Homo sapiens: one gene and its partner. The protein of the gene in region 1 purifies or fractionates together with the protein of each later gene. This does not show direct contact. Each region holds a gene or a part of one and is shown on either strand. Other genes may lie near its edges.

What was found. The genes of interacting proteins can lie anywhere in the genome.
Region 2: the proteins of C1orf198 (region 1) and DAAM1 purify together in Homo sapiens (co-immunoprecipitation; 2 studies listed by BioGRID and IntAct, with this or other methods). This does not show direct contact.

What each region holds. Positions count from the first base shown.
Region 1 is NC_000001.11:230,837,517-230,844,541, reverse strand, and holds part of C1orf198 (uncharacterized protein C1orf198), read left to right. Parts: intron 1-645; coding exon 646-1,188; intron 1,189-4,633; coding exon 4,634-4,690; 3' UTR 4,691-7,025.
Region 2 is NC_000014.9:59,184,633-59,191,681, forward strand, and holds the start of DAAM1 (disheveled-associated activator of morphogenesis 1), read left to right. Parts: upstream 1-4,034; 5' UTR 4,035-4,136; exon of another isoform or gene 4,137-4,282; intron 4,283-7,049. UniProt on the Homo sapiens protein: Binds to disheveled (Dvl) and Rho, and mediates Wnt-induced Dvl-Rho complex formation. May play a role as a scaffolding protein to recruit Rho-GDP and Rho-GEF, thereby enhancing Rho-GTP formation. Can direct nucleation and elongation of new actin filaments.

The sequences.
Region 1 (7,025 bases):
GTATCAGTGTGTTCTTGTGTTGTTTTAAAGAAATACCTGAGACTGGGTAATTTATAAAGAGAGGAGGTTTAATTGGCTCACGGTTCTGCGGGCTGCACAGGAAACATGGCATCGGCATCTGCTTGGCTTCTGGGGAGGCCTCAGGGGGCTGTGGCTCATGGTGGAAGGCGGAGGAGAGCAGGTATCTCACATGGCAGAGCAGGAGCAAGAGGGAGAGAGTCAGGGGGAGGTGCCACACCCTTTTAAACGACCAGATCTCATGAGGACTCACTATCATGAAGACAGCACCAAGCCATGAAGTCACCATCATGAAGACAACATCCGCCCCTGTGATCCAGACACCTCCCACGAGGCCTCACCTCCAGCACTGGGGATTACAGTTCGACATGAGATTTGGGAGGGGACCACCACCCACACTCTGTCACCCGGCCTTGGCATTTAAGCTTCTGATGCATTTCAGGTGTGCGATGGGAGTCCTGACCATACCCACCACTCAGGACAGACAGTTCCAGCACATGGGCAACAACTCGTGTGTGGCTGGTGTGCGTCCTTATGCTGAGGAGGGGTGCGTGAGCTGGCACACTTGTGACGGTCGATTCTCAGGATCTCTTTCTTTTTTCTGTCCTTTCTCATGTCCCACCCTAGAGTCAGATGGAGTTCAGTATCTCCGCCCTATCCATCCAGGAGCCGAGCAACGGCACCGCCGCCAGCGAGCCCAGACCACTGTCCAAAGCTTCCCAGGGCTCCCAGGCCCTCAAGTCCTCCCAAGGCAGCAGGTCCTCCAGCCTGGACGCCCTGGGCCCCACCAGGAAGGAGGAGGAAGCGTCATTCTGGAAGATCAATGCTGAGCGGTCCCGAGGGGAGGGGCCTGAGGCCGAGTTCCAGTCGCTGACCCCTAGCCAGATCAAGTCCATGGAGAAGGGGGAAAAGGTCTTGCCTCCCTGCTACCGGCAGGAACCTGCCCCGAAGGACAGGGAGGCCAAGGTGGAAAGGCCCAGCACCCTCCGTCAGGAGCAGCGTCCTCTTCCCAACGTGAGCACCGAACGTGAGAGACCCCAGCCTGTCCAGGCCTTCAGCAGTGCACTGCACGAGGCTGCCCCCTCCCAGCTCGAGGGGAAGCTGCCATCTCCTGATGTCAGGCAGGACGATGGGGAAGACACCCTGTTCTCGGAACCCAAGTTTGCACAGGTGAGTGGCCTTTACCAGCGCGTCCTCAGATGGGATGGTGCCTTATTCCACGGGAACCGAGAGGGTCCCCCACAAAGCAGGCAGGCCACAGGTGCCCATGCTCTTTTTCTTCTCCTTCCCCTGCCTCTTCCTCAGAGGATGCCTAGGCTCAGGGTGCTGAGCCACCAACAAATATGCAACAAGACAAGTTTTGCGAGTCCATCTGGGTGCCCTAATTTGTTTACCAGTCAGGGTTCCGTGGCCCACTGCGCTTTCCCCAGTGCGCGGGCTGCTATCAGAAGAGGCCCCTGGAAGGCGCTGCGCCCAGGGCTGTCACAGCTCAAAGCTGTGTTGGGCCTTCTTTTTGGGAGCTGTCCATAGAGGCAATGGTCTGTTCTTTAGGACTGGTCTGGATTTGGGCCAGGGGAGCTGCCTGTTGGCAAAGCAGGCAGGCACACTTGAGAGGCCTCACTGGGTCTTGCCCCTCTGTGGGCCTCGCTGGGCTCCTGGCTGCCTTGCTGAGGAGTGAGCCCAGGATGCAGTTGCCTCCATGGTAGCCTCACCCATCCTCCTCTGGCCCTTGAGACTCCTTGGTTCTTGTGGGTCACTCTTTTTTTTTTTAATTTTTATTTTTTAAATTTTTTATTTCCATAGGTTTTGGGTGGTATTTGGTGACATAAGTTCTTTAGTGGTGATGTGTGAGATTTTGGTGCACCCATCACCCGAGCAGTGGACACTGAACCCAATTTGTAGTTTTTTATCCCTCACCCACCTCCCACTCTTTCCCCGAGTCCCCAAAGTCCATTGTGTCATTCTTATGCCTTTGCATCCTCATAGCTTAGCTCCCACTTATGAGTGAGAACATATGATGTTTGATTTTCCATTCCTGAGTTACTTCACTTAGAATAATAGTCTCCAATTACATCCAGGTCGCTGCAGATGCCATTAATTCATTCCTTTTTTGGCTGAGTAGTATTCCATCGTATATATATACCACAGTTTCTTTATCCACTCATTGATTGGTGGGCATTTGGGCTGGTTCCATATACTGAATTTTAAAAGTTTTTATTATGGTAAAATATACAAACATTTACCATTTTAACCATTTTACAGTATAAATTTGGTGGCATTTCAGTACATTCTCAATGCTGTGTAACCATCACTACCATCCATCTCCAGAACTCCTTTCATCCTGCAGAACTAAAGCTCTGGACCCGTTCAACACTAACTTCTCATTCATCCCTCCCCGCAAGCTCCTGGCAACCACCATTCCACTTTCTGTGTCTGTGAATTTGACTCCTCTAGGTACCTCATATAAGTAGCACCATATAGTATTTACCCTTTTGTGACTGACTTACTTTACTTAATGTGACGTCTTCAAGGCTCATTCATGTTGTAGCAAGTGTAGAATTGCCTTCTAAGGCTAATATTCCATCGTGTGGTTAGACCACATTTTGTGTATCCACTCATCCATCGACAGACACTTGGGTTGCTTCCACCTTCTGGCTATTGTTGTCTGTTAGGAATAGTGCTGCTGTGAACGTGTATGTACAAATAAGTCTTCCAGCCCCTGCTTTCCCTTCTCCTGGGTGCATACCCAGATGTAGAATTGCTGGATCACATGGTGGTTCTATTTCTACTTTTTTGAAGAACCTGCATACTGTTCGCCACAGCAGCTGCGTCATTTTACATTCCCATCAATGTGGGTTCGCGTTTCTCCACTCCCTTGCAACACTTGTTATTTTCTGTGTCTTTGCTGGTGCCATGCGAAGGGGTATGAGGTGGTGTCTCACCGTGGTTTAGACTTGCCTGTCCATGATCGTGAATGATGTTGAGCCTCATTTCATGTGCTTATTGGCCATCTGTGTATCTTCTTTGGAGAAATGTCCAATGGTCCCTTGCCCATTTTTAAATTTTTGGTTATTTTGTTGTTGAGTTGAGATCATCACTGATAACATTGAATGTCCCCCAGAGCAGGTTTCCAGTACTTCCACACCTCCCTCGGCAGATGGCTGCACGTGCTGTCCTCCCGAGGAGGGAGGATCCAGCGGTGCTAGTACCTTCTGCCCACCTCGGCTCCACATCAGTGCTCTAGCCTGTCCTCTTCGTGTTTCTGCACCTTCTTAAGCTAGTGCTTTCAGCCCTCTTGTTTCCTGCCTTCTCCGGTACCTGCCCATCTCTCCGTTCTGTTTTCTGTCTCACATCCTCCTGCCCATCAGCTCCTCCTTACAGACAGGCTCAGTTCCCTGCCTCCCTAACCAGCACTCTTTCTCTGAGACTCGGCACTGAGGGCTTCCTCTGAAAGAAGTATTTCCATAAAATAGGTGATAGTCCCCACTCTAAAGAGAAGCAGGAACGTGTTTCTGTGTGGGCAGTGGAGAGTAGGAGACAGCACATGAAATTCCTTTGAGAGAACAGATTTCTGAGTAAAGCACAGTGAAATGCCACTGCATTTAAGAAACTGGAAGGAAACCAGAACAAGGAAAACTGGATTGCACTCCTTCCATTCTGCATGTTTTGCCTCACTCTGCACCAGTCTCACATGTAGCCAAACTGGGCCTGAGACAGGTGTCAAGGGCAAGCCCATTAGCCCATTGCCTGCTCTTGCCGCCATGTATGCATTTTCTGCTGGCCGGCTGCTTGGAGGGTGGAGAGTCAAGGTTTCTTTGCTCAAGAAGACCTTGGCGCACCAGGTAAATGCCTGCCGGTGTTAGGCTGGAGGAAAGGGACATCAGAAACAGGCTGCTGAGTGGAAGCCAGTCAGAAGTTTTATGAAAACAGCAGCAGCTTGAGACAGCCCATGCTCACAAGAGGGGACCTGTCAGTTAAGCCCTTTCCCCTGAAAGAAGAATGACATTAAACCAGGCCTTGTGGTGCACGCCTGGTGCATGCCTGTAGTCCCAGCTACGTGGGAGGCCGAGGCAAGAGGATCGCTTGAGCCCCGGAGGCTGAGCTTAGAGTTTGGGAAAATCACTTCATAACCTTTCACAAGATCTGAAAGAAATAAGCTTCACATTCTTTCCACACTATGTTTACTTTCTCAACTTTACAAGTTCTTTTTTGTTGTGTTTGTGTGTGATGTTTGTTTTATATTTGAAGGAATATCTTTATCATTTGTTCTCTTATTTAGGATGAATAAATTTAAACATGGCTGTCATTCAGAAACAGAAAAGATTTATAGAAAAATACAGAGACATTGTTCTTTTCTCTGTAAGGTCTGTAAGCTGCTCACAGACATGCCTGGGGTTGAAGAGGGGTTAGTGTTGGATGCTGGCAGAGTATAGATTGCATTGAACTGTATTTAATCTTCTGATTTCAAGCACTGAGATAAATTGAGGTCAGGGAACCTCTGAGACAGAAGTAGGCTCTTTTATCTGGGTCGTTTTAAATGAGATGCTGTTTTTAGATTATACGTAACTGAAAAAAAGAGGCTCGTCTTACTTCCATGTTTTTGTCCCTTCTACAGGTCAGCTCAAGTAATGTCGTCTTGAAGACGGGATTTGATTTTCTGGACAATTGGTAAAATGTATTAGAAAAATACAATGAAGAACCCTAAAATGTTTTCCAAAGTGGTGTGGTGGAGGAGGATAAAAAGGGCCACCTTTTCCTATGTATTTTACTGGTTTCTTGACACTCTTTTCTTAATCATTTGGAAACTGGTCAATATTGCCAGATTTTTTTCTTTTTTGGTAGAACCAGATATATATGCTATTTTCAGTGATTTGATAACAGAAGTTTTCCATTTGGAATTTTTAAGGTCTGTTAATAATTCAGGAGATCTTGTAAATAAAACTTCTGTTCCCAGCTCCACCCAACTTTCCCCCTCCTCAAAGGATGTGTTTCAACCATGTCACAAAAATCATATAAGTGATTTCCATCTCCTTCTCCATTATTCCCCCTCCCCCCTCCGCTTTTTACCGTATGGGTTCCTTTTGGTGGGTGATTGAGGGTGATGTTATCAGCCATGACATCAGCATGCTGGCTGTGACCCCGGAAAGACTGGCCCCCAGCGACGTTCTCAGCCAGCGCTCGCAGCTGTCCGGGGCTTCTCTGGCAGAAGCCATGTCTCTCACATCATGTGCCAGCCTCCACCCTCACGCCATTTCCAGGGAACAGACTGCGGGTATGTAGCAGTGTAGTCTTTAACCTGCTCTGATACATATTCAGAGTATGGATTGTTGTTTAAAAAGAGTTGCATGTTTAAAGAGTTTTGTACTAGCTTTTCATTATTTTGTATCTAGATTATCAACAATGGGGCTACCACTTTCCTTGGTTTTATATCCATTTCCTCTTGGAAGTTCTTGTTGCTTATGTGACCTGTTGGTTGTTCCCCGGACTGGGCACCTACAGGAGTCAGGGCAGACGGCAGATGTGGCTGGAGGTCAGGGCTCTTCTGCTTAGTTGTGTTAGAGTCTTCCAGCATGGGACTGATGGGAGCAGTGGGCATTCTTTATCCCAAGGGCTAGCCAGGTTGCGTCATGACGGACCTTCCCCAGCCCTGACCACCACCAGAAGTGGAAGAGTGGAGTTTGCGGTCAACTCAGCAGTGCCCATGGAGACCTGCGTGGTGTCAGAGCAGCAGTATCTCTTGGAGCTGGTGCAGACACCAAGGCTGCCCAGTGGTACAACGTGGTCCACCTCCCCTAGGGAAGCTGCTGCACTCAGAGGCTGTCCTGCCCAGTGGCCCCTGAGCCGTGTGAGCCTGCAGGAGGCGTCTGAGCAGAGCCTCAAGCCCGGTATGGCGCCATCTCCATGTTGCCATCACTGCGTTCTCACCTGAAGCCTTAATCTTTGCGACACCTGCCAGTGAGCGCTCGGTTTCAATACCAAAGTGTGTCTTCTTCTTTTTTTTTTTTTTTTAAATGCCTGTTTCATAGGACCTTCTGAAATGATTTCCAGAATATTTTATCTGGCTCCAAAATAAAGCACATAGCAACTCACCTCAACCCCTCATCATCTCCAGGAAAGTTTCTGCCAAAGCTGTGGCATAGCCAACTTTTGATTTGGTTCTTGCCAATTGTTTTATGTCCCTAAACCTCATTTGGATCCTTGGGGTATAGTTTTATCTTTCTGCTTCAGTGATTTACTGTAACTTTTCAAATATTGGTTCTTTCTGTACCATTTAAGTATAGTTGATATATGTGAGGCAAAAAAAGGTTTCAGCATGGTGGTGAGGGAAAAAGGAGCTTAGAAATCCCAGTTGGCACAGCCTGGGCAAGCGCCAGCTCCCCTCAGGGCTAACGGCACTGTTCACACAGGGATCCTCAGAATCAGCGGCCACCTGCCTCCACCTTCTGCCTGGAGGGCATGGGGCTGTTGTAGAACCTATGGTAGCAAATGTATATGTATGAGTTTGTATTCTGTAGTGTTGGTGTAGCACAGAAGAAAGACCTGTGTCCTAGAGAGTAGGCCAAGGTGATCTGCCTCTTCTATTGGGAGAAATTCTAATTTCTTTCCCACTTTCTCAACAAGCCCAATATTCCCTCCAAGTTCTTCTTGGTGCTGAGGGCTGTAGGAATTATTGAAAGCTTCTGCCTCACTTAGTATCGTCTGGGGCCCAGCACCCAGCAATAACTCTAATAATGTTTCTTAATGGTATAGCCTCCTGAGATTAAATGTAAAATCAAAAATTAGGAAATCTTGGAGGGAGTCCTCAAGTTGTATTGCTTTGCTGTGCTTTTGGAAGAAGGGACGACCTGGAGGACACAGGCTCCTGTGTGGGTCTTCATCCTGCCTGACCGGCAGATCTTCCTCTACACCTTGGGCAAAGTCTATGCGAAGATGGTTTCTTAGCTCTCCATTTGCCATGATTTTCCTCCCATTCATCATGAGGGAGTTTCTCAAACCAGGAGTTTATA
Region 2 (7,049 bases), on another chromosome or scaffold:
TCAGGTGATACTGATGTTGCTGGTCTGGGGATTGTACTTTAAGATAATTAAGTCAGGGACTGTTGCCTGACATAGGACAATAAGCTTCTCTCAGGAATTTGAAATTTGGAACAAAGAGCTCGGAGTCTTAGTGCTAGTAGACCAGTGCTCTGGAGAGGTCTGAAAACTACCACTGCTTAGGTTCCTAGTTTGTCCAGTTCCTGTTTGTCTTGAGCCTTGGTTGTCTAATCCTTTGAATAAATCCCATTACATTCTTTGTTTTGCATAAACTGGCCATAGAAAGTTCTTGTTGTCTGCCCCTAAAAGAACTTTAACTAAAGTGTGAGTATGTCAGTTAAAGTGTTCCACCAAAAAAACAGAAACGATTCTAAGTAGTATTTAAAACAGAGATAATGTGGTCCAGAGAATTGGCCATACTGTGATAGAAGATCTGTGAAGCCAAACACCCAACGCAGAGATTAGCAACAGCAGGAAGCTATCTCTACCGCTAGGCAAGAGGGACAAAGGGAGAAGGTGGTGTTACAAGGCCAGGGTGACCTGGAAGAAGCTGGAACCATGACAGACCAGTCCAACAAGGAAAATGCTGCTGCCACTGCCAGAAACATCACCCAATGCACCTCTGAGGAAGTGAAGAAATTCCCTAGCTTCTCTCTTCCTCCTGCCTACAATCCCCCAGCAGTGCCTCTCCATGCTGGGAAGCTTGGGAAAAGCTCCCTATGTTACTGAGGACAGCAGGGGATCCTGAGGAAGAACATATAGATCTGAGAACAAGTCAAGGACTGGCACTGTTCAACCCTGAATTTCTCATTTTAGTCTTCAAAGTACATTTTGCCTACTTACCAATTAGAGTGAGATAATATGTGCATGCTATATTCTTTCTAATAGTCTCTGTTAAGAATAAGAATTTTTAATTTAAATGGGTTTTTATTACCTTGTTCCATAATTAGGCCTGACATTTCTGAGATAATCTTTTGGGAAAAATTGCAAATGATATCAAGAACTAACATTTGTATAGTGCTTTTCAGTTTGAAAAATATTTTTACATGCTTCATTTAATTTAATCCTCAAAAACCTCATGAAATATATATTATTATTAACCCTATTTTATAAATAAGGAAACTGAGGCTCAGAGAGAATAAATAACACAAATATGCAAAGTAACATGGATCACAAATAATGGAATGGCACAATCCCAAACCTGGGCTTAGCATACAACCTTGATTGTTGCAAAACACCAAGCTATTGCATGAAAGTACACGCAAGGCTACACACTTTCATTTCTTTCTCTCTGTTGATAACTCATTTCCTCCTTTATCTAAAATCCAGTATCTAGAGTAAAACCTTATAACCAGCACTGAGAGAGGTGATTTTAAAAGATCATCAAAATGCTTCGTGGTGCCTTCTCCTCATCCCCTACCTGTATAGACTGTCAAATCTGTTCTTAGTGGTCTCACAGGTTCCTAATTAATAGGCCACGATTATGGGATGAGGCAGGGCTTTTCATAAGGTCTTCAGAACAGCAGCAGTTATGTAAAATGAAAAGATAGAAAGTAAAGAAACCCATTTTGACTGAGAATATCAATTAGCTAGACAGAGTGGGTGTTTTTGATGATTTATGAGACTACTTGGCCACCTAGAAAAAATTAAATGCAAACATACACAATGATTGTGTATGAAAGTGAGTGAGAGAGAGTGTGTGTGTGAGTTTCCTTCTGTCTCCAAAGAAGTGGTTAAGCCTCCTCTGCTGCTAGTTCTACAGACTGTATTTCTCATGTTAAAGAGCCATCTTTGTTTCCCTTGGTTACCAATGAAACTGTGCAGGGATCAGTTCAAATCCATCACCACTTGCAGATAATTTTTCCAAACACAATGCCCTCTTTCTACATCTATTATCTATATTTATAGCTATTAGATAGGAAGAGCAGTTCACATGTGCATTTCTCCACATTTATGTGCTTACAGTCTATTGTGTATGCTGTCCTTTATATGGAGATGACTATGTCACATGGCACATCCCTATAATATTGTTAAAGAGAATGGAATTTTTGTTTTCAGACAGACTGCATCTTCTCCTTCATTACTGAAGAGCCAAGAGAACTTGTTGTAAGGTGATTTCTCCATTAAAATTACTCCTCAGAGTGTGCCTCAGTAACATACTTTTATCTACAAGGATAAGCCCTGTCTTAACAGAAAGGCTCCACATTCAATTTATTGACTCAATAAATTTCAGGCTCACTGATTATGTTTCAGTCTAAAAGCTTTACACAGTTATAAAATTAGAAGAGCCTTTAGAATCATCCCAGGTCAAGTTTCTCTCTGAATATTTTTCCACCATGAACTGCGTTACATTAAGTCTACCCATTAGTTAGAATATCAGTGATTATATCCTTGATCTGATGGCCAGGGGAAAATTTATATTGTCAGAGTTCATTTTAGATAATATTTGAAATGGAAGAAGTAGCTGAGGACAGAAGAGCAACATTCAAAGCTATCTTCTTTCGGGGGAGAAAAGTGGGTCTTGTCTATAAAGAACAGGCTTGTTAAAAGAACATCAGAATTCATCGCTAAACATCTCTCTGAGCAAAACAAAGCATTTCCTCTCCCCTGAGATCCTCAACTAATTTCATAAATATTTTTTCACTTGAACCCAACTTAGTGTTGCAGAATGAAAGGAGAAAATAAATGATAAGAGTTCCACCAACACTTCAGTAGGGAGTTGTCTGAAATCTTAATTGTGAACCTTTTTTTCACAAGATGCACAGTCTTCTAGAGATTTTGCTAGTGGAACGGGTGTGTGAGCTGATCATTATATGGAATTGAGACACATCAAATGCCATTAAAATTTACATTTACAACTCGAGTAACTAAATGCATTGATTCTTTTCATATTAAAAGACACTTGGTATTCACTGAATAATGAAAAATGCCACGGAAAAAATTATGTATTAACAATACAACCTGCCTAAAGGGTCAGAATTCTGCTACACACCTTTTGCTTACCTTTAAATAAATATTTAGGTGTGTTAAGAGCAGGGCAATTCTTGAACGGCACGATGTTGTTTGGTTTAATGTCTTTATAAAAATATTTGAAAAGGTATGGAAAATGAGGTGAGAGTGTTGTGGATTTAAAAACATGTGTATACATAGATACACAATTATTAAAACTTTAGACAAGGACGTTTTCTTCCTGGGAGTGGAGAGCCACCAGCGCGGGAAGTCTGCTGCAGGGATGAACAAAAGCATGGCTGCACGATAGTATTATCTTTGCAGCAGCAGCAGGCGCCCTGACGGAGGGTTGCGGCGACTGTCTAGTCTATCACACCGCACTTCTGGTAGTGACAACCTCCGTTATTCTGTCAGCTCAGCCGACTAAGTGGTTCCCCGCGTTCTGCCTGGTCACCTTGTCTCCGTTAAACGGGAAGCAGAAAAGAGAAAGGTGAATTGAGGGGGTACAAGGAGATTCCTCCGCCTTGGGACCGGCGTCGCCCCATCCTCTGGAAGTGTTGAGCGGGGAGAATTCGAGGACCGTATTTAACCCAGAAAACAGTAAGCCCTCTGAATTAGCTGCTACGCCTGGGGAAGGCAGAAAAGTCTTAATCGTCCCTTCCCAGCAGGGACCAAGAAAGACCAGTTAGAGCGAGCCTGGCCGGACCACGCGAGCCCCGGACCTCTCCGATCCTTCAGAGCCCGCGCCGGGCAAAGTAGAGGTCAAGTCAACACACACGACCGCAGGGCAGCCCTCCCACTCTCCCGTGCGGTCCGCAGCTCGGCTTCGGAACGACCACCGCTAACACTGCAAGGCTGTAAGGCTGGGAGGGGGCGGGTCCTGAAGGGGGCGGGAATAAGAGGCGGGGCAGAAGGGCGGAGGAGTGTGTCGGGAGATGTAGTTCCGCGAGTCCCGACAGCAAAGCTGTCCCGGCTCCGCTAATAGATTGGGACCACTACTCCCAGGAGTCTGCGCGCCCGACCGGAGCGTCCATGCGCAGTGGGAGCCACTTTGTATCCTATCAGGCGAGGAGAGGGTGATGTCACCTGCGAGTTAGTAACCTACGAGCGGCTGTGAAGGAAACTGTTTAACCGGATCCCATTGTACCCAGAGTGCAGAGCCGCCTTTCCAGCATGCAGGGGCTGCTCAGGTAAGGGGGACGCTCCTCCTTGCCCGCCGCACTCATTCATTAAGTGGCACTGCTCAGTGGTGCGGGGGTGGGCGTGCTTCCGTGGGCTGGGCGCTGGGTTCGCGGCGCGCCCTCCTGCTGCCTCCCCGGAGCTCCCGGGCCAGTAGGTAAATATTAAACCCGTCCTTCAGGTTGGGTCTGGGTGGGAACGGGACCGAGACAGCTCTCGGCTGCCTAGCTGGGGGTGGGAAAATGGCTGCAGCGCAACGCAAACCGAGGCAGCAGGGAGGAAGACGCCCCCAAGGACTGGGGTCCCTCCCTTTCTTTCTAAGGCGCCCGGCTGGCCGAGGAGCTGGCGGGGTAACACTCGCCGCCTTGCTGAAGGCTCCCCGGGGCTGGGGCCGCGGGTACTGCAGCGGCGTCCGCGAGCTCCCGGCCCGGCGGCTCCGAGAGGGAGAACCCCGAGGCAGGCTTGGTGGACACGGCGGTGGCGACAGGGAAGGAGGGACTCGTGTACCCGTTCGCGTCCGAGCAGAGCCCCCAGTGCCCCTGGCACCCTCACTTCCAGCCCCATTCGAAAGGGACGGAGCGCCTGTAATTCAGACTAAGTTGGACCTAAATGTTTCAAAACAGAGAGAAGGGAAATCGGGCGTTGCGGAGGGAGAGCAGGGTGTTGGCGGCCGGGGAGGCTGCGCCGCCTGCGGACCCGGTTGTGAGGCACCGCAGAGGGCTTTTGCCGCCCGTCCCTCTCGGGAGGGCGCATCTCAGTCTCCACGGTCCCTTGGTGTAGAGCACCTGGGCTGGGGCGAAGCGCCTGCCCTGAAGCCCTGGGCCAGGAGGTGGTAGCGCGGGGGTGGAGGTGTCGGATAATCTAATGATTAGGCTCGCTGTGGGGCAGGAGGGCTGGATAATCGGGTTTACCCAGCTGGTTCTGAAAGCCAACTGCTTGTGATCGGCTTGCCCTCTGAGTGGAGACGTGCAGGAGGCCCAGAGCTCTCAGTCCTCTGGATGTTCTTTGCCTTTCCTAGTACCTTCATTTGTTCGTTTACTCATTCATCAAACCCTGCTAAGGTCTCAAGTTGTTCACGGCCTGGCTTTGCGGAGCTACCTCTCGCCCCATAACATATTTAGTGATGCCTGAACTCCATTCCCCTCTCCTTCATCTCCACTTTCTGGAGAGCATCAAGAGCAAATGCCACCGTGACCGTTTTGCTGGTAGTTTCTTGAGATTCGAGCAGGACCCAGTGAATCGAAGCGGAGTTGCCTGCAAGATGAATCCCGTTGCCATGGCGACTCCTGCCTTCGGAATCTTAGCCGCTGCCACTGCTGTTTCGATTCGATGTGGCTCTGCGGGCAGCTGGGAGGGAGTGGCTAGTGGGTGTGGTCAAACGCTCGCCCTGGCCCAGCTGCTCTCTCCTCCTCGCCCCTTTCACAGCCCCGGGACTCTCCCCTTTCTCTCCTAAATAGCTTGGACACAGTTCTAAACCCCTTTCCCTTCCCCGTGCCACACCTCATCACGCCACCTCTCTCCCTGAAACTAATTGTTTGGCGCCTTTTTCCTGAGGCAAACTCTGAAAATTATAATTTGAAAAATCTCTTCCCCCTTTCGGGCTAGCCGCATCATTTCCCCAATAAGGTAGTTTATGGTGTTGGAGGCAGCTTTGTCATGAAAGGCGCCCTCCCCTGTTGTGCATAAAGAGAGCTCTCTGGTCACCAGCAAAGGCCCTCAATTTGCTCTAGGTGCAGCTGATTGGAAGTGATTAGGGACAATTAATAACGGCTGGAAGACACTGCAGTCCCTTGTGGTTCTCATAAAATCTAAAGCCAGGCTAGAGGGCGCAGGTCCTTGAGGGTGAAGCATGCAGGGCCATAACCAGGAGCCTTGGGTCCTACTCTGGCTCTGTCAGTCACTGGCTACTCCACGTTGGGATTAACCCTTTACCTCTGGGAACCTCAGTCTTCTCTTTGGTAATGTGAGGAAAGGGTAGAGAGGGTTTCCTAACGTTAATTCTAGGCGCAATGGCCTATGATTCCAAGATAGACTTGGTCATTGTCCTTTTTCGTCCCCGACCCCAAAGTAATCTGAAGTTAAGGGTTTAAACTTGGCTTCTGATACTGTGCCGTCAGGTTATATGGACAAGGCAGCTATGTGACTATTTATAATACTGTTTATACTACCACTACTATTATTCCAGTATCTGGACCCTTCTAATTATACTTTAGTATTATAACTAATTGTTTAGGTTTTGCCTTTTTATAGATTCCTAATGAATGCAGTTATTTGTAATTGCATTAAGTGTAATTGACATATAAATATTTTGTTTCCCCTCTGCTTGCATTTTATACCAATGTGCATTATCACAGATGTTGCAATTATGGGGGAAAGTGTGTATATGAGAGTGTCTGTGCATGTGTATCCATAGTCAGGTAAATGCTTGGGATTGCTGTGTGCTTGGTGGTTGACACTTACGATCTTATTTTAAGTAGGTAGCTACATCCCCATGAGGAAACAGGATCAGAAGTTGTCACTTTTTTCCTGGAACTTACCATTAAATGAAAATTTCCTTCATTCTTCTGCTTGTCTACCCTACTAGATTATAAGCTCCTTGAGGGCAGTGTCTTTGTTTTGTCCTTTTCTGTCCCCCCAGCATTTAGAGCAGTTTGTTCATTTGTAGGTCTTTAATAAATATATGTTAAACGAATATTAAGTAGCAGAACTATGATTGGAGATCCAAGGTCTATTATTTCCACTGATAGTTCTGTCATCCGTGGTAATATTCCCCTTAGCTTTTCTATCAAGCAGTTTCATTTCATCATAAACCAAAACTTGTCTGGCATAAAAGGCCTTCTATGTATTTGAAATAGACATATTTCCTAATTATTTGCTTTTAGAATACATTCACTCACATCGACTGTTTCTTTGTAGTTACAATT